Regions from separate parts of the Homo sapiens genome. Here all the other regions are linked to region 1. Evidence: fine-mapped expression QTL. A gene starts in region 1. Each other region holds a variant in brackets. All regions are shown on one strand. Distances are from middle to middle.

Region 1 (8,000 bases):
CCAGCTGCTGCTCGGCCTCTTCTGCACCAACGTGGCCTTCCCGCCCGAAGCTCTGCGCATGCGCGCACCCGCCGACCCGGCTCCCGCCCCCGCGGACCCAGCATCCCCGCAGCACCAGCTGGCCGGGCCTGCCCCCTTGCTGAGCACCCCTGCTCCCGAGGCCCGGCCCGTGATCGGGGCCCTGGGGCTGTGAGACCCCGACCCTCTCGAGGAACCCTGCCTGAGACGCCTCCATTACCACTGCGCAGTGAGATGAGGGGACTCACAGTTGCCAAGAGGGGTCTTTGCCGTGGGCCCCCTCGCCAGCCACTCACCAGCTGCATGCACTGAGAGGGGAGGTTTCCACACCCCTCCCCTGGGCCGCTGAGGCCCCGCGCACCTGTGCCTTAATCTTCCCTCCCCTGTGCTGCCCGAGCACCTCCCCCGCCCCTTTACTCCTGAGAACTTTGCAGCTGCCCTTCCCTCCCCGTTTTTCATGGCCTGCTGAAATATGTGTGTGAAGAATTATTTATTTTCGCCAAAGCACATGTAATAAATGCTGCAGCCCAGCCTCTGCCCACTTTGTGTGTATGTGACCGCCTGCTTACTTGCAGTGAGAGCCTGGTGGCCAGGGTCTGGCCCTACCTTGGCTGACCAGCCTCTCCACAGCTGCAGGCCAGGTCTCCCAGCGTCGCACTCCTGGGCCTGGCATTTGGAACCTGCCAGGCTGGCCTGGGAACACCCCCCTACAGGCACATATGAACGTACTGCATTCCTGCCGACCCCCCTGTCTAGGATGCATCCACACCCCCCCCAATTTTGCCCAGCAGCCTCCTGGCTGACCCTTGGCCACAGCCTTCTGAGGGCCAATGGAAATATTTGGGACCAAGATTCTTGGTAAATAAAAACGAAAATGTTTGCAAAAGGTGTCGCCTGCCCCTCCCCTCACACGGTGACACAGTGGGGTGTGTGACTGTTTTGGGGCTTGGCCAGCTGTGGGGGCTGAGGTTCCTGAAACCAAGCACAGGGGACCTGGGAAAGCTGGGCCCCTGCTCCACTTGGGCGTTTGGCCCAAAGTTCTCTGTCCCCCCACCCTCACAAGCCTCTCTGGCCTGGTGCACATACCTTCTTGTTCCCCTGCCCAGCCTCCTGCCAGTACACAGGGCAGGGCTGGGATATGGAGGCAGGTGAGGTCCTAGCTGAAGGGGACTCAGCCCTGTGCTGGGGAAGTGGTTTCCTGAGGGCATCCTCTTCATGGCAGGGAGGCCATGAGGGGAGAAGGCCAGCCCTCCTTGGCAACCAAAAAGGCCCCATGGCCTGAGGGTGCTGGAGCCAGCCCCCACCTGCTCCTCCCAGAAGGCGTGGGGTGGCTGTGGTGGCAGCCCCCTGCCAACAATAACGGTTGGTTCTGGGATCTGGGACTGGGCGAGCCGGCCAGGCAGGTCCCTGATGTGCCTGTGCCAGAGGCCACCCCCCTTGGTCTCAAGGTCCTGTCCTATAAGCCCAGCCTTTTGTGGTTCAGCTGGGTCGCACGCTGGATCCCAGGCCCCTTCCTTGAAAAGCAGAGGCCTTGTACCCCCCAGGGTTGCCGGGCGGGACAGTGATTCCAGCCCTTCAGGTGGGTGCAGGGGCCAGGCTGGGGCTGGGGCTGGGGAGGGCTCCTCGGTCTGGGGTGGAATTTTCTCCCCCCACAGGAGGGTTTCACTCGGGCCTCAAGCAGCTCCTCCTTCCAATCCTCCCCCAAGGGGAGCCCCAGTCAGGGCTGGGCCCCAGAAGGAGAGCCAGGAGGGGCTACTGAGGTGGGACCTGCCTGAGTCCCCAGCTCGTTCACCCATACATATACACTGAATACTGCTAAGTTAAACATTTTCTAGCATTACACGTTCATTGTTTTGTTTTGAGATGGAGTTTCGTTCTTGTTGCCCAGTGCAATGGCACAATCTCGGCTCACTGCAAACTCTGCCTCCCGAGTTCAAGTGATTCTCCTGGCTCAGCCTCCCAAAGTGCTGGGATTACAGGCGCCCACCACCACACCTGGCTAATTTTTTGTATTTTTAGTAGAGACGGGGTTTCGCCATGTTGGGCAGGCTGGTCTCGAACTCCTGACCTCAGGTGATCTGCCCCTGTCTCAGCCCCCCAAAGTGCTGGGATTACAGGCGCCCGGCCTACATGTTTATTGTTTAAAAACCGGGAAAGTATAGAGAAGAAAGTAAAGGCTCCCCACCCCTAGAGATAACCGCTGAAAGTATTTGGTCTGTTTCCTGCCCGGCTTTTTCCTACACACACTTTTTGGCGCCTTAAGTCGGGCTCCCCCCGGACAGGAGGGGCCCCTCCCAGGCGCTGGTGTCTGCGCCCGCCCCCCGCAGCCTTGTCCCTGCTCCGGGGGGTCCCTGGGTCTCTGGGGCATATCGTTGCTTCACTGCTCGCTCGAGCCTCCAGGGATCGGGCCGCCGGGGCAGCGCAGAGAGGCGGGGACAGGCGACAGCGGCGCAGAGTGGCTCCTCCCGGGGCCGGCCCAAGCGGGGGTCTCGGTGCCTGCGAAGCGGCAGGGGTCGCTCGGGGCCCAGTGCCCTCTACGTCCCGTCCGGGTCCCAGCTGGGGCGGGGCGCGCCCAGTGTTTCCGGGAGGAGCGGCCCGGGCGCGCGGCAGGTGCGGCGGCGCAACTCGCGGGTAGGCGACCGCTGGTCCCGCCGCTGAGGCCCCTCCACTGCCGCCCGCCCGGCACCCCCTCCGGGCCGCCGTGGCCCGCGCCAAACCTGAGCGTCTCGGTCGGGAACTCCGGTTACCCCCTCGGGGCGCAAGGCGGCAGGGGTAAGGGCGGGGTTGTCCCCCAGAGTTTCGGGGAGCACAGGAGGCTGGCCGCCCCACCCCACCAGCCCATCCTCCCACCTCCCTGGGGCCCTGCTGCCGCGCGGCTTCCGGCTGGGGTGGACCTCAGGTCTAGCCGGCAAGCCGGAGGGCGGGCGAGACAACAACGTGGCCTGGAGGCAATGGCCCTGGCCTCTCGTGTCCCCTTCTCTCACCCGCCCAGACTTGCCCTCTTTGGAGGTCGCCCGGGCTAAGGAACATGGAAGGACGCTGGGTGGAGAGTGAGGGGAGAGGATCCCAGCTCCCCGGTGGGGGAAGGCGGGTGTTGGTGGGGAGCAGCTTTGGGAAATCCGGGATCAGGACATTGTGTGAAGGACAGGTGGCTCTGGTTAGGGGGCGGGGCGTCCCTGCAAGGAGGTGGGAAGGGAGGCCCCAGGGAGTTCTGAAACGGGGAAGGGCCTCAGTGTTGTGGGGCAAGGGTGTTAGGTCTCGAATCTGGAAGTGTTCCTGAGTGGGGCGTCAGAGGCGAAGGGCTCTGCAGGCTGGGACCTTGCCCCTGCACTCTGTGGGCTCAGTTGTGGGGAGGGAGGGGCCGGTGGGCAGGAGGGAGAAGTCTGCCCTGCCTGCCAGCTGTCATGAGGCTGGGCCACACAGGCCCAGGCCAGGGGCTAAGGACTTGGTCAGGACTGGCTGAGCCCTCACTTGGGATCAGATCTCCAGTTGCAGAGTGTGAGGGGCTCCTCCCTCACTGACCCCAAGCCTGCTCCTCTCAGCTTTCAGGACCCCACCTTCCTTATCACCAGGTCTTCTCCACTGGCCCCTGAGATTGCCATCACCTCCAGCTCCTCCTCTCCTGAAGTTGGCAGCCCCTCCTGGGTTCCAGCCTCCTGAGATGCCAGACCCACTGGGGCAGTACCCACAGGCCCTGAGCCTACATCAACCACCCCAGTGACACCCCAAGCCTGCAGCATTTTCCACCCCCAGCCCCCTGGTCCCACCTTGCCTTCCGCCCACCTTCCCACCTGCTGCAGGGAGGGCCCTCGGCTGAGCCTTCAGACACACTTGCACCCCATCCGCTCCCCTCCTGAATTTCTTCTGACCCTCCCTTGGCTTCACAGCACCTGAAGGCCAGGCTGAGGCCCCCTGCTCTCATGGCCAGCCCTGGAAAGCCTGGGGCTGATGAGGCCCAGGAGGAGGAGGGGGAACTCGAGGGGGGCTCTGCAGGGCCGCGGGCTGCAATACTGGAGCAGGCTGAGGAGCTGTTTCTGCTGTGTGACAAGGAGGCTAAGGGCTTCATCACCAAGCACGACCTGCAGGTGAGTCCCCCACCCCAAGAGACTGCTTCGGCCCTGGGTTGACCGCAGCGGCTCATCTCTGCTCTCCTTCCCCGACCAGGGTCTCCAGAGCGACCTGCCCCTCACGCCAGAGCAGCTGGAGGCTGTGTTTGAAAGTCTGGACCGGGCTCACACTGGCTTCCTCACCGCCAGGGAGTTCTGCCTGGGCCTGGGTGAGCCTGTGGCCTGCCTATCCCCCACTGCCCAGAGCTGGAGGCCTGATCAGGAGGCCTGGCACTTGTGGCGCCCTGAGGGCTGCCGGTGCCTCTCGTCCTCCTCCCTCCAGGGCCCGTGCTTTGTCTGCACGCACTCGCGCCTGGGGGCTCCTAGCTGCGGTGGAGTGTGTGGAGCTGACCTTCCTGGCCCCCAGCTCCTCTCCTGTGCTAAGCTCCGGTAGGGCTGGGAGCTGGCCTGTCACCTCTTGTTTCCAGGCCAATAGGACCAGAATAAGGAAGGAAAACAGGAAACTGGGCCCTGAGAGAGGGCAGGATACTCGTTGGGAGGGTGAACGGGGACACAGCCACGGTGGCGACCCACAGCCCTGGTAATCGCTCGCTCCATGCCCGCAGGGATGTTTGTGGGGGTGGCGTCAGCCCAGGGAGCGAACCCCTGCAGGACTCCCGAGGAGACCTTTGAGTCGGGCGGGCTCGACGTGCAGGGCACGGCGGGCTCTCTGGATGAGGAGGAGGAAGAGGAGGAGCGATTCCACACTGTGCTGGAGCAGCTGGGGGTGGCCCCGGTCCTGGGCAAGTGAGTCGGCGCTGGCCCCGCTCCCACTGCCCGCTCTGCTGTTTCTCTGCCTGCATGCTGTCTGCCCTTGTCACCCGAGTGCTGGTTCTGCACAGGGTCTCTAGGCCGGGTCAGGCCCAGCCTAGCGTCAGCTGCGATTCCCTGGGAGGGACCCGGCATGATTTCCCGCAGAATTTGCATTTCATGAGGCAGCAGCCAGGGCTGCAGGGAGGAGGGGCAGCGCCGGGCGCGGGGCCACATACCGGCACTGCCCAGGGTACACACACCTCACCGACCACGCACGCCGGGCAGGGGCGAAAGCGCTCACGGGAGGGATGCCCTGCACGCAGCAAGTGCTCCTGTCCTGCCCAGGGGCGAAGAAGTCTCCTAAGGGTTTGCTGCTGGCGGAGGGAAGCCTGCTTCCCGCTTCTGCCAGCTCCAGCCTCAGTTCCCGCCCGCCCTCCAGGCAGCGGGCTGTGAGGACGCTCTGGGCCAGGCTGCAGCGCGAGCGCCCCGAGCTGCTGGGCTCTTTCGAGGATGTTCTGATACGCGCGTCGGCCTGCCTGGAGGAGGCGGCCCGGGAGCGCGACGGCCTGGAGCAGGCGCTGCGGAGGTGAGGGCCGGGGTGGGGTATGGGGGCCAATGGAGGGCCTCAGGGCAGCAGCAGAGGCGGTGCCAGGGGGCTGTAGCGCTGGCAAGTTCTCATCCGGGGTCGCCCGGTCCCCCGAAGGCGCGAGAGCGAGCACGAGAGGGAGGTGCGCGCTCTGTACGAGGAGACGGAGCAGCTTCGGGAGCAGAGCCGGCGCCCGCCGAGTCAGGTGGGCCTCGGGCCCCGCCCCTCCCGCCAGGCCCAATCCCACCTCGCTGGCCTCCCTGGCTCCGCCTTCTCTGAATTAATCCCTCCCCGACGGCCCCACCTCCGCGGGTCCAGGCTGCCCTCAGCCCGAGGAGATCCCACTGGGCCTCACGTATCACCCCCGTCCGGTCTTCTCCACCCGACCCCGCTCCGCCCGGGCCCACTCCCAGCCCCTGGCCCTCCGTGTACCTCTTTTGCATGGCCGAGCGGCCGGCGGAGGCTCAGTGGTCCTCCGTGCGTCCCAGAACTTCGCCCGCGGGGAGCGGAGAAGCCGTCTGGAGCTGGAGCTGCAGAGCCGCGAGCAGGACCTGGAACGCGCGGGCCTGCGGCAGCGGGAGGTGAGCACCCGGCCCCTGCCCTGTCCCCACGGTCACCCGTGCACTCTCCCCCTGTGCCTTAGCGTCCCCGGGTTGTCGGGAGCCTGGGGCACGCGCAGCACCCCGGGGAAGAGGGGGCGTTCCTCGCCGGTCTCCATCCTTCCACCCTCCAGTTAGAGCAGCAGCTGCACGCCCAGGCTGCGGAGCACCTGGAGGCACAGGCCCAGAACTCCCAGCTGTGGCGGGCGCACGAGGCGCTGCGAACGCAGCTGGAGGGGGCGCAGGAGCAGATCCGCAGGCTGGAGAGCGAAGCACGAGGCCGCCAGGAGCAAACCCAACGGTGCCGTGGGACGGGGCTGGGCGGGCCCCGGTGCGTGTCCCGGGGGCGGGGCCGACGGGCGCTCAGGTCTGGGCCACTTTCATCCCCATCTCAAGTCCCAGGCCCGCCCCGTGGGAAGGAGGATCTTCTAGGGGGTCCGGGGGCTCCCCAAGGAGCCTTCCTGCAGCCGGGTCACCACCTCCCATCCACAGAGACGTGGTCGCCGTCTCCAGGAACATGCAGAAAGAGAAAGTCAGCCTGCTACGGCAACTGGAGCTGCTCAGGTACGGTCAGGCTCAGGCCCGAGAGGGAATGGGCTCAGCGGAGCTTGGGGGCTCCCAGCTCCCCAACATTCTTGGCTGCCGCTCTACTCCATTGGAAGTCCTTCCTTATGCCTGCCTTTCACCCCTCACGCTGCAGCCTCAGCCAGACACCTCTCTTCGCTCTGAGGGGAGTCGGAGCTCACCTCCCCCCACCTTGAGCTCCCTCAGACCCTCTCAGTGTCGGACTCCTCCTTCCCTAGGGAGCTGAATACACGGCTGCGGGATGACAGGGACGCCTGCGAGGCCAGGCGGGCGGGCAGCAGCTGCAGGAAGGCTCTGACAACAGCCCGCCTGCCTGGGCCCACCTGCTGCTGCTGCTGTTGCTGGGCTCGGCCCCCCAGACGCGGCTCTGGCCACCTTCCCAGTGCCCGGTGACCAGCCCCGAGTGACTCACGGACCATGAGCTAGAAGCTGCCCTTGCAGGAGGCTTGTCATGGGTCGGGGGTGCCCACTCAGGATGCAGGCTCTCCCCAGTGGGCCCCAGGCTCGCCTGACTGAAGACATGAAGGACCTAGCCTAGGAGTGGTCAGGGTCCCGGGAGTGGCCAGGGTCCCGTGTGTGCCCTCTGCCAGTCTTCGCTCTGTCCCCGTTCAATCAACCCCATCTCAGTTCAGCAGAAAACCCCCTCGTCAAATAAAACCCACTGACTGCACTGCGTCCTCCTGGGCCTTCCGTGTGTCTGGGAGCCACAGCCTGTGTGTGCCACATGGATGAGGTGGGCACCTGTGCACGCGTGCTGTGTGGGTGAATACAGGGAGCGCGGGCCTGTGGCGATGGGGCTGAGGTCCTGCGTGTCCTCTTGTGTCCCTGGTCATGCCCCAAACTCACACTACCCATCAAGGCTGGAGCCCCTCGGGGCCCTCGCCAGTGTGTGGATCAGGGCTCCCCACTGTCTCGCCAGGGAGGCCGGGCAGGTTCCCGGCCTCAGTCGGCCACCCCCTCCCATGCTGGTCCTCCCCTGTGGCTGTGATGAATGAGCTTGGTGGGTGGGCAGCCCCCTCCTTCCTCACTCCCACTCTTGGCGTCTTGGTGCAGCCCTAGGCCGGCCCTGCCCTTCGTCCCTCACCTCCTCGCACCGCTCCCAGTGGTCCCTTCCAGTCTGGAGGGCATGGGCCCCCCAGGACCCCATGGGTATGTCTCGCTGGGACCCCAGGCCTGCCCGGGTCTCCAGGCTGTCCACACTGCACGTACAGTAGCCCTTCTCCCGCATTTGCCCACAGCGCTAGGCCCTCCCACGCCCCAGGCCGGCATCGGTTCTGCCGACCCCTGCAGCCTCTGGGCGGTTCCTGGGTGAGGAGAAAGAGATGGGGGTTGGGCATGGAGGAGGGCCGGGTC
Region 2 (8,253 bases), 42 kb after region 1:
GCGAGTTCAGGGGGATGGGCAGGGACGGCCTGTGGGGACAGTGGGCTCCCTCTTAGTGGACAGAGGCAGAGGCTGGTGTGGGGTGGAGGCCGGTGGTCGTCCATGTTGGTCGGTGGCCCAGGACTGGCCAGTGCACAGAGGGTGGCAGCTGGGGCCCTGGTGCCAGTGGCCCCTGGTTTCCAAACTCCACAGCCCTCAGGAAGTTCTGGGTGTCCTCATGCCTGCAAGGCTCAGGGGAGGGTGCTGTGGCTCGAGCCACAGGGGTTGGGTGGGGCGTGCAAGCCACCAGGAAGCTGAAGGGCTCTGCCACTGTGTCGCCCACCCTGGGGTCGGGGTCAGGGCCAGGGCACCTGCTGAGGACAGGGACTGCTCTGGGCTTGAGGCCTGAGCCTGTGGAGCTGCCATGCCCAGTCCTCCTCCCCTACCTACAGATCCTGGGCCTGACCTTCGCCATGACCATGTACTGCCAAGTGGTCAAGGCAGACACCTACTGCGCGTAGGCCGCCCACCGCCCGCTTCTCTGCCAAAAGGACGCCCACGGGGAGATGGCCGCACCCACAGCTGCCTTTCCCACCACCAGCCTCGGTGCTCTGCCCCATGCTGGGAGGAGGGAGGGAGGGACAGGTGCCTGGAGCCCCCGGAACCCTGTTTCTGGAAGGCCCTAGCTCAGGTGGCTTCAGGGCCTCCGGACCCCCCCTGGGAGGGGTGGCCACGTGCTGGCTGCGGAACCCAGGGCAGGGGTGGGAGGGGCCTCCAGCACTTTTTATATTTACGTATTCTCCAAAGCAGTGTTCACACGGGAGCCAGCCTGTGGCCCCCAGCCTCCTGGAAAACAGGTTGGCGCTGGAGGAGCCGGGTCTTGGCATCCTGGAGGTGGCCCCACTGGTCCTGGTGCTCCAGGCGGGGCCGTGGACCCCTCACCTACATTCCATAGTGGGCCCGTGGGGCTCCTGGTGCATCTTAATAAAGTGTGAGCAGCAACCTTGCGTCTATTGCTCGTCTGCCTTCCCTACCCTATCTTCCCTTCTGGCACCCAGGCCTGGGGCAGGGCAGCCTCTGGCATGAACGGTGCTTAGGCAGAGCCCTGGGGCTGTGGGGTCACCTGGTGCACAGGCTTGGGGGAGCTGCCTGCAGAGCAGTCTCCAGACCTCTGGTTTTAAGGAAATCATGACATTAGCTCTAAGAAGTGATGAGGCCGGGTGCAGTGACTCACACCTGTAATCCCTTCGGCTTTGGGAGGCCAAAGTGGGTGGATAACCTGAGGTCAGGAGTTTGAGACCAGCCTGGCCAACATGGTGAAACCCTGTCTCTACTAAAAATAAAAAATTAGCCGGGCGTGGTGGCGGGCGCCTGTAATTCCAGCTACTTGGGAGGCTGAGGCAGGAGAATCGCTTGATTCCAGGAGATGGAGGTTGCAACGAGCCGAGATCGCACCACTGCACTCTAGCCTGGATGACACAGGAAGAGTCCATCTCAAAAAAAAAAAAAAAAAAAGTAATAAAAAATAAAGTGCCAAGGCCCCTGGGGGGCCGTCCCTGAACTGCCAGCCTTTGCTAGGGGTGGCCTCCCTCTGCTTCACCCCCCCACCCCGGGGGCTCCTCCTGAGGCGGGCCTCCCTCCACATCGCCCCCTACCCTGGGGCCTGCTGTCGAGGCGGGGCTGTGCTTTTCCCCTATTTTGTTCCTAGAACTCTGCCCCTTTAAGTGAGCTGGCAGCACAAAGCACCTGTCACAGGGCATGAAAAAAAATGCATCAAGGTGCCTCAGGATTCTCACAGCCAGGGGTGAGGGTTGTGTGGGGACCCTGGCCACAGGGATGACGGTCAGTTCAGGTTGGGGCATCTGATCCCCAAACTGCACCCCACAATCTCATTTCCAGCTAATTCCTGCCCCACCCTCTGCCCATCCCCCCGGGAGACACAGCCCGCTCTAGACATCCCATCCTGTGTGGCATCCCCACCCCTGCCTCCACCCAATGCTGATCTGGCAATGCCTAGCTCCAGGCCCACACCACCCTCCCAGACCTGCGTGTCCCCCACCCTCACTCCAACAGAAGCCACAGGACCCCCGAGAACAACTTGAATGTTAGCGTCAGCACCTCTGGGGAGACAAGGTCAGTGCCCCAAAGCCAGTGGCAGCTTGTGTTTTTTTAGACAAGGTTTTTGGAGTGCAGTCGGTCACAGCTCACTGCAGCCTCAACCTCATCAAGCGATCCTCCCATCTCAGCCTCCTGAGTAGCCAGGAGTACAGGCACATGCCACCATGTCTTGCTAATTTTTCTATTTTTAGGGGGTAGAGACGGGGTTTCACCATGTTGCCCAGCGTTCCTCCCGCCACGGCTTTCCAAAGTACTGGGATTACAGGCATGAACCGCCGCACACACCACTTGTATCTCCTATGCCCGTGTCAAGCAGCAGCAGGGCGGTGGGAACGGCTGCACCTGCACTGTGGCAGCTCGCAGGCCTCCCTGACGTCCAGGCGGAGGCTTTCTCAAGTGTGGGTGCCTTGGGTCCGACCCAGGACCCCCTCCCCAGCTCCCGTCCTGTGGAGGAGACCCCACCATGCTTCCTCACCACCGGCTGGAGATGTCCTGACCCCCTGCCCACTGCGCCCTAACATTACTGACTCTAAACCAGAACCCAGTGCCCACCCTGTCCTCACCGTCCTCACCCCACGGCATTCTGAGTGAGGGACGCCCAGGCCCACCCACTCCCTGGACTCACTTCTGTCCCCCCGAGAGACCTTGCCCGGGACATGTACCCACCTATGCCCTCTACTGCCCACCTCAGCCCTGTGGGACCCAGTGGTGAGGAGGGGAGTCCTCACGGCCAGCCAAGGACAGGATGGTGACGAGGGGCAGGGGAACGAGGGCCACCAGGCCTTGGCTCATGATGCCTCCAAATTCCCCAGGGCCTCCCCAGAGCCTGGACACCGCTGCATGGCAGGGTGGGTGTAGCCTGCCAGCCACATGTCCTCTGCCCCACCCCTCGCTGGAAATGCCTGTCCCGATATGGCCCACGGGTCCTGCCGTTGCCCCTCACCATGCTCCCTGATGTGTCCAGGCTGGCCTGGGGGTCGTGCTACCTGAGGCGGCAGAGCTGAGCCAAGGTCCAGGACCAGTTTCAAGAGGGTGGGCCAGGCTCCTCTGAGCCCATTTCTAGGGCAGCCCCTGCACCCTTGCCGTGCTGGACTCGGTGGGGACGTCTGGGTGGCTCTCTGCAGGTGACACACGTGCTGTGGCTGGCCAGGTGGGTGGCAGGTATGTGGGGGTGGAGCTCTCAGCTCTATCACTGCCAGGCCCTGGGGTGATGCTGGGCAGAGCTGTCCCTGCGAGGGCCCTCGAATCCAGGAGTGGGCGAGTCCGGGATGGTTCCAGAGCTTCCAAACCCACATCCAGCCCAGG[A/T]TGTGAGAAGCAGCCCAGAAAGGCCTGAGCCAGGCTGTCCTGGTGGGGCAGGTACTGTGGGCCCCGCCTGCCCAGCTGACAGGAGGCAGCCAGCGGATGCCCGGGTGGGAGGGGCTCGAGCTCTCAGGGTGTCCCCCAGCTAGGACTCATCCAGGGCAGGGACCCCTCATGGGAGGATGGGGAGTCACATGGTGCCCAGGACCCCCGACTGAGGACTGCAGCAGACCCGTCACAGCAAACGGAGTGGAGGCCTGTATTTCACACCTGCTCACTCACTCCATGGCTTAGAAAAGAACACGTCCACCGCGGAGGCCGCAATGCCCACCTAGAGCAGGTCGTAGAAGTAGTCCAGGCCCTGGCCCAGCTCCCAGATAGAGACCCCAACGCCCAGCTCCCGGGCCAGCTCCAGCCGCACCTGCAGGGACTGGGCACAGATGGAGGTGTGAGCACCTGCTGGGGCCTGTCCCCCCAACACCCAGGGATGTCCTCCAGGCCGAGGGGCAGCACCGCCTGGACCCCAGGCCAGTGCCTGCTGTGCTGTCGCATGGCCCACCCCTCCCCCGGTCCCACGGCTGGCAGCACACGCACCTTCAGGGTTGGGTAGAAGACGACGTGCCTCCCACTGCGGCTCCTGCAAGACAAAGGGACTGTCAGCCCATCCGCTCTGCTGGTTCCAGGCCTCCTCCCCTCACAGCCAAGGTCCACGGCCTGTACTCCTCCCACCCACCAGGTGGCCACCTGCTGTCCAGCTGTGCTCCAGGGCCGGGAGCAGCAAGTGAGCTCGTGACCCTGAGACCCCCTGGGCCCTGCTGCTCCCTCATCTCCACCCCCAGGGCCCCTCCCTGCACACAAGGCCAAGGTGGGCCACGCACTTCAAAACACTCACTTCTTGTACTCGAAGAAGTGCTCTGAGGCCTGGCTGTCCCACACCATCCGGGGCCTGTGGTCCTTCAGTGTCTGGATGTACCTGGGGAGACCAGGATATGGATTTGGGAGCCCACCCAGCTCCCCCACAGCCCCACCCTGTACCCCCAAAGGCTGTGGCTCTCAGCAGGGGCAGGGCCACTCGGGGCAGCCACTGTCCCCAGTGGTCTGGGGGACAACACCTGGTGGGGTGGCCAGAGCCCCAGGCCGTGTGAACCCTGTATTAGAGGAAACCTCAGGAAAAACATCTTCCAGGAGCTTCCTCGGAAGAAGCCACCCCACCAAGTCCTTTCAGTGGCCTGGAGAGTGACACGGGGCCTGAAACTGCCTGAGCCTGAGGGTGACCCTCAGGCCGCGCAGCGGCTGCTGGACAGGGCTCCTCACTCTGTCCAGACCCCAGGTGAGAGGCTAACCAGACAGGCCTCAGGCTGCCCTGGCCCCGCTGCTGGCCCTGGACTGATGGGCAGTGCCTCGTACTGGGTGGGCAGTGCCTTGTACTGGGGATGGCTGCCCGGGGCAGTGGTTTCTGCACCTTTTTTTTTTTTTTTTTTTGAGACGGAGTCTCACTCTGTCGCCCAGGCTGGTGTACAGTCGTGCGATCTTGGTTCACTGCAACCTCTGCCTCCCAGATTCAGGTGATTCTTCTGCCTCAGCCTCCTGAGTAGCTGGGACTACAAGCACACATCACCATGCCCGACTAATTTTTGTTATTTTTTAGTAGAGATGCGGTTTCACCGTATTGGCCAAGCTGGTCTCGAACTCCTGACCTCGTGATCTGTCCGCCTTGGCCTCCCAAAGTGCTGGAATTACAGGCGTGAGCCACCGCGCCTGGCCTCTGCACCCTTTCAAAGACTGAGTCTGCCTCAGTCTTGAACAATGACCACCCCATGCCCAGGACAGCAGCAGGCCCCTCCTGAGCACCAAGAGTCAGTGGTTTGAGAACCACCCCCTCCTTCACACAGAGGACAGGCTCATTCCCAAGGTGCTGGGGACACGACTGCGGCTTCCAGGTCACGGGGCCCTGAGTGTGTGCACATCTCACACTGCACATTTGGGACCAGGGCAGGTGGTTCCAGAAGCTTCTGGTCTCCACAGACAGGAGTCTGTGCAGGTGGAGGCAGCTGACAATGGAACATGACCAGTGCCTGCTGCGTGAGGACAGTGCCCCCCACGTGCCTGGGGCTGCAGCCTCAGGGAGGAGGCCTGGCGTGGGGCCTACAGCCCGGGTGCCATGTGGGAGGGGAGGACAGGCAGTAGGCAACTGCAGGGGCGCAGGGACCTGGGCCGTGTGGCATGGACATCCGCAGGATCCTAAGGGGTCACAGATGGACAGTGCAGGGTTTATCCAAGTGAGAAATGGCCACAGGACCGCACCTCGAGCCACCTTTCTGCTCCTGCCCAGGAGTAGTGGGATGTTTGAGGCTCCCAAACGGGAAAGGCTGCTGTTGTCCTGAGCAGGGCAGAGTCCCCTTGACACTGGGAGCCTCTTCCAGACTAGGGCACATGTCACTTCAGAGCTGTGAATGGGAGCAGCTGCCACCCCCCCAGCAGTGCTCGACAAAGTGCCAGACCCCATCGGGTAGCTCTGGCCTTTTGGGGCATGGAGGCTGCTCTGCAGACATCAGACCCCGGCAAACACATGGCAGGGAGGGTGGGAAACAGCATTCGGGCAGCCTCCCCAACCCAGACAGTTTCCCTTAGACGCCTGTTTCTGTTTTTTTGAGACAAAGTCTCGCTGTCACTCAGGCTGGAGTGCAGTGGCATGATCTTGGCTCACTGTAACCTCCGCCTCCTGGGTTCAAGCAATTCTCCCACCTCTGCCTCCCAAGTAGCTAGGATCACAGCCACCCGCCACCACGCCCAGCTGGTTTTTGTATTTTTAGTAGAGATGGAGTTTCTCCATGTTAGTCATGCTGGTCTTGAACTCCTGACCTCAAGTGACTGCCTGCCTCGGCCTCCCAAAGTGTTAGGATTACAGGCGTGAGCCACCGCACCCAGTCCCTCTAGACTCTGGTAATGGGATGGCAGCAGTGGCTGGCAGCTCCAGCCATCCCAGGCCTGGAAAAGGACTGCTGGACCCCTGCCCTCCTGTGGCTGGGCCAGGCCCCTCAATGGCCACATGCAAACATGGTCCTTCCAGAAGCCCCTCCAGACCAGGCAACGTCATGGAGGCTGCCAGCATAGCCACAACCCCATCAGACAGCTCTAAAATTACTGCATTATCCTTAACTGAAACACCACTCAAGGTGTTGTTGGTGTAATTTGCAGCGTCCCCCCTCAATATCTGCTGGGTGGCTCTGTGAGAAGAATGGGATGTGCAGGGTCGTGGGCAGATACCTCAGGGCAGGGTTGGCCCTCGGGCTGTGGGGAGCTCTGGCCACGCCACACACTCCTCCTCCTGGGGGGCCTCTGTGGTCACTGCTCAAAATCTGCTGCCTCCAGGAGGAGGTGAGGCTGGGGGTGGCCAGGACCCCTGAGAGCACTGGGTGCCTCCCACTCAGGAGCCCCAGCCTGGTGGTTTGGCGAGTGGGTGGTGACCACGCTGTGGGGGCAGCCATGACCAGGGCGCTGTCAGGGACCCCAACCCCAGGAATCGCTACTCCCAAGCAGGCCCTGGGGACGAGGAGAAGCTGGAGCCCAGGTGCTGGGTGGGGGTGTGTGCCCAGCTCCCAAAAGCCCAGGGAGGGTCTGAGAGTCACTCCTGGGGAGGGAAGGTGGGGCCACCCGGTATAGGGGCGGGGCTGAGTGAGGACGGGCAGCTGCAGGCACAGCAGAGGGAGTCCAGGCCCACAGCAGAGGGAGGACAGTCCTCAGAGGGCCGCAGACACACACAGGGGCTGGGTCCTTGGGGGGCCTGAGTGGCCATCCAGGCTGGTAACTGGGACCCCCTTGAGGGCTTGTAAGACCCCAAGGAGCATGGCTGGTGTGATGGACAAGCACACCAGGGGACCAGGCTCCCAGGAGGAACAAGGGCCACACAGGTCTTTTGGGCGCAGGCACCAGCCACAGTGAGTGGGGAGCGAGCGAGGGGCCTGCCTGGGAGGAAGGAAGGGCCACAGAGAGGGCAGGGGAAGGTGAAAGTCCGAGAGTGGGTGCAGGGAGCACTGCAGGAGCCCAAGGGAGGGACAAGCACATGGACGGGGAGGATGTAAGGAATAAGGACTCAATGAACACGGACAGCTCGGCCTCACAGAAACATCCAGAACAGACAAACCTACAGAGACGGTGGGCTGGAGGTGGGCACAAGCTAGGGCGGAGAAAGAGGGCACAGCTGCTAAAAGGCACAGGGCTTCTTTTTTTGGGGAGCAGTAATGCGGGCTGTACAATTCTGGAAGCGTGTTAAACGCCACTTTGAAATGGTGCATTTTATGGTATGTGAATTTCATCCAACCTCAAAAACAGCTGCAAGGCCTCAAATGGAAAGGGCCAAGGAAAGCCAAACAGGATATACACACAAAACACACCGAGACGCGCCACAGAGCAATTTAGGAGGACCAGGGACAGAGGTTCGACGCGTTTCTAGGGAGAAAGCAGATCAAGTGTGAGAAAGATGTCCTTGGACCTCCTGATGTGTGTGTGTGTGGGGGGCGTCACCCCACGGAGACCAGCTTGGAAACTTTTGGAGAAAGGGCTGCAGAAAACCAAAATAAGTGGGATGAGAGGCTTGCTCCAAAGCCTGGGGACTTTGCCAAGGTCTAAAACGCAAGGATTAAAAACAGAGGGGGCCGGGCGTGGTGGCTCACGCCTGTAATCCCAGCACTTTGGGAGGCTGAGGCGGGCGGATCACCTGAGGTCAGGAGTTCGAGACCAGCCTGGCCAACGTGGTGAAACCCCATCTCTACTAAAAATACAAAAAATTAGCCAGGCATGGTGGCACACACCTGTAGTCCCAGCTACTTGGGAGGCTGAGGCAGGAGAATCACTTGA
Region 3 (8,253 bases), 400 kb before region 1:
CCAAAATGCTGGGATTACAAGCATGAGCCACTGCACTCAGCCAAATGTTTAATATTTTGAAATCATAAACATCTAAAGGAAATCACAGTTGAATACTCACACACACACACACACACACACACACACACACACACATTTGAGATGGAGCCTCACTCTGTCACCCAGGCTGGAGCGCAATGGTGCGATTTCAGTTCACTGCAACCTCTGCCTCCTGGGTTCAAGTGATTCTTGTGCCTCAGCCTCCCGAGTAGCTGGGACTACAGGCTCACACCACCACGCCTGGCTAGTAGAGACGGGGTTTCTTCATGTTGGCCAGTCTGGTCTTGAACTCCTGACCTCAGGTGATCTGCCTGCCTCAGCCTCCCAAAGTGCTGGGATTTCAGGCATAAGCCACTGCACCTGGCCCACAGTTGAACATATTTATTAATCTTGAGGAGTGGCATGAAAAAATAGAACCATAAAGGAATACTGTCAAAAAGAAAATTTGCTCTAGTGTAACATGAGAAACCAGGTAGATTTTTCACGCTGTTTTCCGAGAGACCTCCCCATGCAAAGAGGCACAGAACTAAGCTCTAGAGCCAGACTTTGTGGTTTTTATCTGTTCCGCCACCCACTGGCTGTGTGTCCTGGAGATAATTTCTTAACCTCTCTGGTCCTCAGTCATCTATTCTGTAAAATGGCAATGAGAGAAGCTCTGCCCTATAGGGCTACTGTGCAGATTAAATGAGTTAATGATAGAATGTGTGAGTGGGCAATGGATGTAGCTACTATTATACAGACCCATCTCATCCATCAAGAAAAATCAATTCAGTTCCTTGGTCTTTAATACGAATGAATAACCACAGAGATTTACTCACAGAGGAGTAAGAGGAGAATAACGATTAAAAAACAAAAATGGACCCTTTAGGAAACAAGAGATAATTAGGGAACAGATGAGAACTCAGGGAGAAGGAAAACCTAATTGAAATCCTCAAGAACATAAAAACACGGAAGGGATGCTGTGAATAAAAAATAAAGAGGAAACAAAACACTCTTAGAAATTAAGACTTTAATTGTTAAACGTAAAACAAAGAAATCAATCGATGGAGAAAAAGGCACAAAGTGAAGGAAATCTCTCCAGATGTTACAAGGAGGAGACATGGACACGGGACGCGCGGGAGGAAAAGGCGGCGCGGAGACGGGACGCGCGGGAGGAAAAGGCGGCGGGGAGACGGGACGCGCGGGAGGAAAAGGCGGCGTGGAGAGACGGGACGCGCGGGAGGAAAAGGCGGCGTGGAGAGACGGGACGCGCGGGAGGAAAAGGCGGCGTGGAGAGACGGGACGCGCGGGAGGAAAAGGCGGCGTGGAGAGACGGGACGCGCGGGAGGAAAAGGCGGCGTGGAGAGACGGGACGCGCGGGAGGAAAAGGCGGCGTGGAGCGACGGGACGCGCGGGAGGAAAAGGCGGCGTGGAGAGACGGGACGCGCGGGAGCAAAAGGCGGCGTGGAGAGACGGGACGCGCGGGAGGAAAAGGCTCCCAAGGAAGATCTCTGGAAGAAAAGGGACTCCGTGCAATACACGATGTACCACAGAGAGGCTGGATACAATTGATAAAGACATTCAAGAAAAAGAGGCAAGTAGAAACCCCAGGAGATGGATTGGAAGGCAGACAAAATCAAAAACAACAAAAGATAAAGAAACTCCAGGAAAAACAAAGAGCTGTACAATAAATGTTACAAATATGATGCAAAGTAAAACATACCATGATTATAAGAAACTGACAGTTAAAAAAAAAAAAAAGCAAGCAAGAAAGAAGCCTGGCCTTCATGCTACGATAACCTAACAAAAATGCTCCGATAATATGAACAGTCAATTCATAGGAAAAAAAATACAATGATCAGTAAATATCTGGAAAGATGCTAGACTTCACCAATAGTTTTTTGTTTTTTGTTTTTTGTTTGTTTGTTTGTTTTGTTTTTTTTGAGACGGAGTCTCACTCTGTCGCCCAGGCTGGAGTGCAGTGGCGCGATCTCAGCTCACTGCAGGCTCTGCCTCCCGGGTTCACACCATTCTGCCTCAGCCTCCCCAGTAGCTGGGACTACAGGTGCCCGCCACCACGCCCGGCTAATTTTTTGTATTTTTTTTTAGTAGAGATGGGGTTTCACCGTGTTAGCCAGGATACTCTCAATCTCTTGACCTCATGATCCTCGTGCCTCGGCCTCCCAAAGTGCTGAGATGACAGGCGTGAGCCACCTCGCCCAGCCCCTCACCAGTAGTTTTTTAAAGGCACTTTTAAAAAATGAAAAGACTTTGCCCATCAGCTCAAGATGGAACATATAGTTTCACACACTGTGGGTAGCTTTGTCACTGACACAGCCTTTCTGGAGGTCTCTTTAGCAGGATCTATGTTAATGTAAATGCAAACTCCCAAGTCACAATTAAAATGGCGACTGCAGGTGCAGTGGGTCACACCTGTCATCCCAGCACGTGGGGACACCAAGGCAGGAGGATTGCTTGAGACTGCAGGTGCGGTAGCTCACACCTGTTATCCCGTAGCACGTTGGGAGGCCGAGGCAGGAGGATTGCTTGAGCCCAGGAGTTCGAGACAAGCCTGGGCAACATGGCAAAACCCCATCTCTACAAAAAATAGAAAAAATTAGCCAGGCATGGTGGCACATGCCTGTAGTCCCAGCTATTCGGGAGGCTGAGGCAGGAGGATTGCTGGAACCAGGAGTTTGAGGCTGTAGTGAGCTGTAATGGTACCACTGTACTCCAGCCTGGGGCAATGGATCAAGATACTGTCTCTAAAAGTAAATAAATAAAAATAAAATGACAGGCTGCTGACACCCACTACCAGGCATCACCTTAGAGGTGTAAGGGAATTGGAGAGGCCTGAAGTCCACTCAAGACATCAGGCTTTCGGGGGAGACACTCAGGAAGCAACCCAGCCCTGCCAGGATCCCCAGGAAGCCTCGGGACTTGGGTACCCCTGGTGGCTTGGGGGCACTGATTAGGGGAATGCAGGCCCAGCTGGAAGGTCCCTGGGCTTCCTACCTGACCACAAAACCCCCTCAGGAGGACTAGAAGCTCACTAGGGGTTTGAACAACCAGGGACTCAGCACACAGGGTTGGACCAATTGACACTGAGGCCCCACACTGTCCTCCCCAACCCCAGCTGGCCTCCCAGCACATAGACAGCGTCCTTCTGCCTCCAGACAGGAGACCAGGGTTCACCCGCAGGAGCTTCCAGAGTGAGAGGTCCCACCAGGAGAGACGTGGCCCACAGCAAGCCATGGTGCACGCCTTTCCCAAGACGGATGGGGGTCAAGAACCAGCATCTACAGGGCCAGACGTGGTGGCTCACCTGAGGTCAGGAGCTCGAGACCAGCCTGGCCAACATGGTGAAACCCTTTCTCTACAAAAAATACAAAAATTAGCTGGGTGTGGTGGTGCGCACCTGTGGTCCCAGCCACTCAGGAGGCTGAGGCAGGAGAATTGCTTGAACCCAGGAAGCAGAGGTTGTAGCGAGCCAAGATCATGCTACTGCACTCCAGCCTGGGCGACAGAGCGAGACTCCATCTCAAAAAAAAAGTAAAGCTGCAGCCAGCATCCCTCTCACCTCGCCTTCCTAATTAGTGAAATGAGTCTTTCTGGCTCCATCAATCCATATGCACCTTTTTTTGGCCAGGTGCAGTGGCTCACGCCTGAAATCCTAACACTTTGGGAAACTGAGGCAGGAGGATCGCTCGAGCCCAGGAATTCGAAACCAGCCTGGGTAACACGGTGAGACCCCATTTCTACAAAAAATATTAAAATTAGCTGGGTGTGGTGGTGCACGCCTGTAATCCCAGCTACTCAGGAGACCCAGGAGGTCAAGACTGCAGTGAGCCAACATTGTGCCACTGGACACCAGCCTGGCGACAGCAAGACCCTGTCTCTGTCTCTCTCTCTCTCTCTCTCATATATACATGTATACGAGGATGTGTGGGCAGGCAGACCCAGGAAGACACCAAGTGCATTTTCAGCATAAAGAGCAGGTGCAGTTATTCCCAGGACAAAGCCATTTCTGCCAGTGCTGTTATGCGCCTGCAAATGCATGAAAAAGCCTGGGAGGCCACCAGACTGTCTTGATGCTACCTCGGGGCCCGGGATTCAGGAGCTGGGCTCACTGCAGGCTTTGCTCACATGTCTCTAGATTGGATTTCCACTTGCTCTCAGCAGAAATTACTTTTAAAATTAAAAGAATGGACATTGCCACTTTAAAGGCAGTGGAACAAGCCCTCGTGAGTTGGGTTGGAGGGAGCCTGGCGCCGGCCCTACCTGCCCAGGATGAAGGCGATGTAGATGAGAGACGAGAAATGGGTGAAGAACTGCAGTGTGAAGAAGCGGATGGTGAACCTGCTCTCTCGCTCCGAGAAGGTCCTGGGCATCTCTGGAATGGGACCGGCCCTCACCTCTCTCCCTGCTCATAGGAGAGGCCCTGGGGCAGCAGGAAGGGTCCCCTCCCCTGCTCTCTGACCACAGCCCCAAGGCCCCAGCCCTGAGTCCTCCCGCCGGGTCCCCCAAGAGGGTCTGGGGTAGTCCTCTCACCGAAGTCACAAAGCTTCAGGGCCACGCACCTGTTGATCTGCGGAGGAGGGCACCGAATGGGCTCACTGGGGCTCCGGTGGACCCCCCAGCTCGGGCCTGCCCTGCTCCCGGCCCCACCTTGGTCATGATGATGATGGTCACATAGTGCACCAGAGCCCCGGTCACCACCACGGCCGTGGTCACCTGCTCCTCCAGGAAGGGCACGGCCGAGCTGCTGAAGAGCGCGGAGGCCAGGACGCGGTAGACCACCAGGACGTGGGCCATGCCGATCATGAGGCAGATCTGCGGGACAGCTGTGGTGGGCGGGGGCCGGGGAGGGCATGCAGCCCGGGTCTCCAGCCCCACCGCGGTGTCCCCTGCGTACCATGAGCAGGGTCAGGACGAGGATGACGGTGCTGCGTAGGTAGGAGTGCTGGTATGGCCGGAGCTTGTAGTCGGGGCAGTTAATGAGCTGAAGTGCCATTTCCTCCTGGGGAGAGCACCGGGCAAGCCTCAGACAAGGGACACTCACCCCACA[T/C]GTGGGGAGACAGACACAGAGACACACCTCACGGGTGGACAGACACGGGACACTCACCCCACACATGGGGAGACAGACACGGGACACGCACCCCACACGTGGGGAGACAGACACAGGGACACGCCTCACGGGTGGACAGACACGGGACACTCACACCACACGTGGGGAGACAGACACAGGGACACGCCTCACGGGTGGACAGACACGGGACACTCATCCCACACGTGGGGAGACAGACACAGGGACATGCCTCATGGGTGGACAGACACGGGACACTCACCCCACACGTGGGGAGACAGACACAGGGACACGCCTCACGGGTGGACAGACACGGGACACTCACCCCACACGTGGGGAGACAGACACAGGGACACACCTCACGGGTGGACAGACACGGGACACTCACCCCACACATGGGGAGACAGACATGGGACACGCACCCCACACGTGGGGAGACAGACACAGCGACACGCCTCACGGGTGGACAGACACGGGACACTCACCCCACACGTGGGGAGACAGACACAGGGACACGCCTCACAGGTGGACAGACCAGGACACACGCCCCACATGTGGGGAGACAGACTCGGGACACACACCTCAGACACGGCAGGCATATGTGGGCCGTGCAGGGCATCGGGCGCCAACAGCCCCTGCTCGGGTCGGCCTCAGCTGCGCTGCCAGCTCCACCTCACCTGTTCCTCGTCCCACACGTACAGGTCCCAGTGCAGGACCACGCGGGCGCGCTGCCGCTTCCAGATCTCCAGGAACACCGTGGCTGCGGCGGGGGCAAGGAGGGGCATCACTGCACTACGCCAGGTGGACCTCGGAGCTTGGGCTGGCACTTCCCCTGGCCCCGCAGAGGCGTCCCGCAGCAACTCACCCCAGAGAGCCATGAAGATGGCGAACACCACCGTGCCATCATTGTCAAAGAGGTGGGTGAGCTGGGGGGGTGATAGGTGGGCCGGAGAGGAGGTGGGTGAGCTGGGGAGGGGGGCAGGTGAGCCAGGGAGGGAGGCAGGAAAGCCGGGGAAGGGGGCAGGTGGGCTGAGGAAATGGGCGGGTGGGCTGGGGCTGGGCCTCCCCGTCAGCCCTGTGGGGAAAGCTGAGCAGCTCTGCAGGGCTCCAGGCCTTGATCTCCCCCGCTTCGGGTGGATGCACCGTTCCCATCTTCCGCAGGCCCTGGGGTGGACCCGGAGGCGACAAACCTTGGCAAAAGTGCAGGTTTCCGAGAGCCGCTGGTACCTGCGGCTGTGGTCGCCGAGGGGACACATGAGGATGTCGTGGGCCTCACAGATCTCCTTGCTGAAGGGGCAGGGATGAGGCTGGGGTCGGCTCCTCCAGGCAGCAGGGCCCACCCCGGCCCCCCATGCCCGGCCCCTGCTGCGGCCCACCTGATCTGGCTGGCCTCAAACAGCGAGAATCCGCTCAGAAAGACTAAGAGGCCCGTCAGGGCGGCCGGCACCAGCATGTAGGTGTACCAGCCCAGCCAGACGAAGTACAGGGCCACCTTTTCCCCAAAGTAGTTCCTGCAGGCAGCAGGGGTCAAGGCCAGCTGTCAGGGGGCGGTGGGGGAGGGACAGGAAAGGGATGGGGGTGGGAGGGGGCAGCAGGGGAGGGATGGGGGAGGGACGGGGTGGGAAGGGGTGGCGGGGGAGGGACAGGAGAGGGACGGGGAGGGATGAGGGTGGGAGGGCAAGGCAGGGGAGGGATGGGGGAGGGAGGGGGCAGTGGGGGAGGGACAGGGTGGGAGGGGGGTGGGGGAGGGGGTCTCTCTTTTGGTGGCATCAGTGAGTCTGAATGGGAAGCACATCTGTGGGCGTGGGGGCATCTGTGAGGGTGTGGGCAGTGTGGGAGCATCTTCTGGGTGGTGTGTGGGGGCGTTTACAGGAGGTGGTGGCTTCTGGGTGGTGTGTGTGGATGTCTGGGGGGTGTGGGGGCGTCCGCGGGTATCTGGGGGCTTCCGCGGGGGTGTGGGGGCTCACGCGGGTATCTGGGGGCGTCTGCGGGGGTGTGGGGGCTCCCGCCGGTATCTGGGGGCGTCCGCGGGGGTGTGGGGGCTCCCGCCGGTATCTAGGGGCGTCCGCGGGGGTGTGGGGGCTCCCGCGGGTATCTGGGGGCGTCCGCGGGGGTGTGGGGGCTCCCGCGGGTATCTGGGGGCGTCTGCGGGGGTGTGGGGGCTCCCGCGGGTATCTGGGGGCTTCCGCGGGGGTGTGGGGGCTCCCGTGGGTATCTGGGGGCGTCTGCGGGGGTGTGGGGGCTCCCGCGGGTATCTGGGGGCTTCCGCGGGGGTGTGGGGGCGTCCGCGGGTATCTGGGGGCTTCCGCAGGGGTGTGGGGGCTCCCGTGGGTATCTGGGGGCGTCCGCGGGGGTGTGGGGGCTCCCGTGGGTATCTGGGGGCTTCCGCGGGGGTGTGGGGGCGTCCGCGGGTATCTGGGGGGCTTCTGCGGGGGTGTGGGGGCTCCCGCGGGTATCTGGGGGCGTCTGCGGGGGTGTGGGGGCTCCCGCGGGTATCTGGGGGCGTCTGCGGGGATGTGGGGGCGTCCGCGGGTATCTGGGGGCGTCTGCGGGGGTGTGGGGGCTCCCGCGGGTATCTGGGGGCGTCTGCAGGGGTGTGGGGGCTCCCGCGGGTATCTGGGGGCTTCCGCGGGGGTGTGGGGGCTCCCGTGGGTATCTGGGGGCGTCTGCGGGGGTGTGGGGGCTCCCGCGGGTATCTGGGGGCTTCCGCGGGGGTGTGGGGGCGTCCGCGGGTATCTGGGGGCGTCCGCAGGAGGCGGGGCCGTCCGCGGGGTTCCTGTGCTCTCTTTGGGCAGCGTTACCTGATTTCATCAACTGGCTGCTCCCGGAACATGTGTCTCCACCGCGCCCACGTCTTCTTCAGGCGTCCCTCCCCCTGGCTCGGGTGACAGAGAGTGAGAGCCCCCATCCCAGGGTCCCACCCCAGGGCCCTCTCCAGGCCAGCCCACCCCTCACCTTGTGCAGGGGGAACCTGGCCTCAAAGACCCCGTCCTTCATCAGATCCTCGAAGGTCTCTGGGTCACAGGGGTTCACGAGTCAGGGGGAGTGAGGTGCTGGGAGAACCCTGCCCGCAGCGCCCCTGTCAGTGCCCCACCCCTGCCCTTACCACCAGCCGAGGTCTTGTTGTTCATGACAACGAAGTTCACGAT

The links. PIP is the estimated chance that this variant, and not a neighbour inherited with it, causes the effect.
Region 2: its variant is fine-mapped to the expression of CRACR2B in whole blood (INTERVAL, PIP 0.92).
Region 3: its variant is fine-mapped to the expression of CRACR2B in whole blood (INTERVAL, PIP 0.93).

What each region holds. Positions count from the first base shown.
Region 1 is chr11:824,670-832,669 of GRCh38, forward strand. CRACR2B (calcium release activated channel regulator 2B) reads left to right here and starts at 3,250. Exons shown (of 9, transcript NM_001286606.2): 1 at 3,250-4,103; 2 at 4,183-4,294; 3 at 4,691-4,871; 4 at 5,317-5,463; 5 at 5,581-5,668; 6 at 5,952-6,044; 7 at 6,197-6,363; 8 at 6,555-6,626; 9 at 6,866-7,317. The coding sequence starts at 3,939. The coding sequence ends at 7,040. It overlaps PNPLA2 (patatin like domain 2, triacylglycerol lipase), which reads left to right. Exons shown (of 10, transcript NM_020376.4): 10 at 1-904. The coding sequence ends at 193. RefSeq lists silencers at 2,353-2,972, 3,213-3,302, 5,497-6,106, 7,959-8,000 and enhancers at 2,673-3,211, 3,752-4,289, 4,290-4,829, 4,830-5,367, 6,446-6,985 and 1 more.
Region 2 is chr11:866,131-874,383 of GRCh38, forward strand. It overlaps TSPAN4 (tetraspanin 4), which reads left to right. Exons shown (of 9, transcript NM_003271.5): 9 at 432-981. The coding sequence ends at 500. It overlaps CHID1 (chitinase domain containing 1), which reads right to left. Exons shown (of 13, transcript NM_023947.4): 11 at 4,289-4,369; 12 at 3,991-4,033; 13 at 1,729-3,826. The coding sequence ends at 3,728. Among named protein-coding and RNA genes, the nearest start is that of TSPAN4, 27 kb to the left of the region's middle. RefSeq lists enhancers at 1-266, 4,477-5,239. The variant A/T (reference allele first, on the strand shown) is at 3,403.
Region 3 is chr11:423,789-432,041 of GRCh38, forward strand. It overlaps ANO9 (anoctamin 9), which reads right to left. Exons shown (of 23, transcript NM_001012302.3): 5 at 8,211-8,253; 6 at 8,060-8,118; 7 at 7,906-7,979; 8 at 6,481-6,615; 9 at 6,295-6,391; 10 at 5,970-6,030; 11 at 5,782-5,864; 12 at 4,934-5,038; 13 at 4,687-4,851; 14 at 4,570-4,606; 15 at 4,300-4,411. It overlaps LOC105376506 (a long non-coding RNA gene), which reads left to right and starts at 8,036. Exons shown (of 5, transcript XR_007062542.1): 1 at 8,036-8,253. RefSeq lists an enhancer at 4,758-5,957. The variant T/C (reference allele first, on the strand shown) is at 5,087.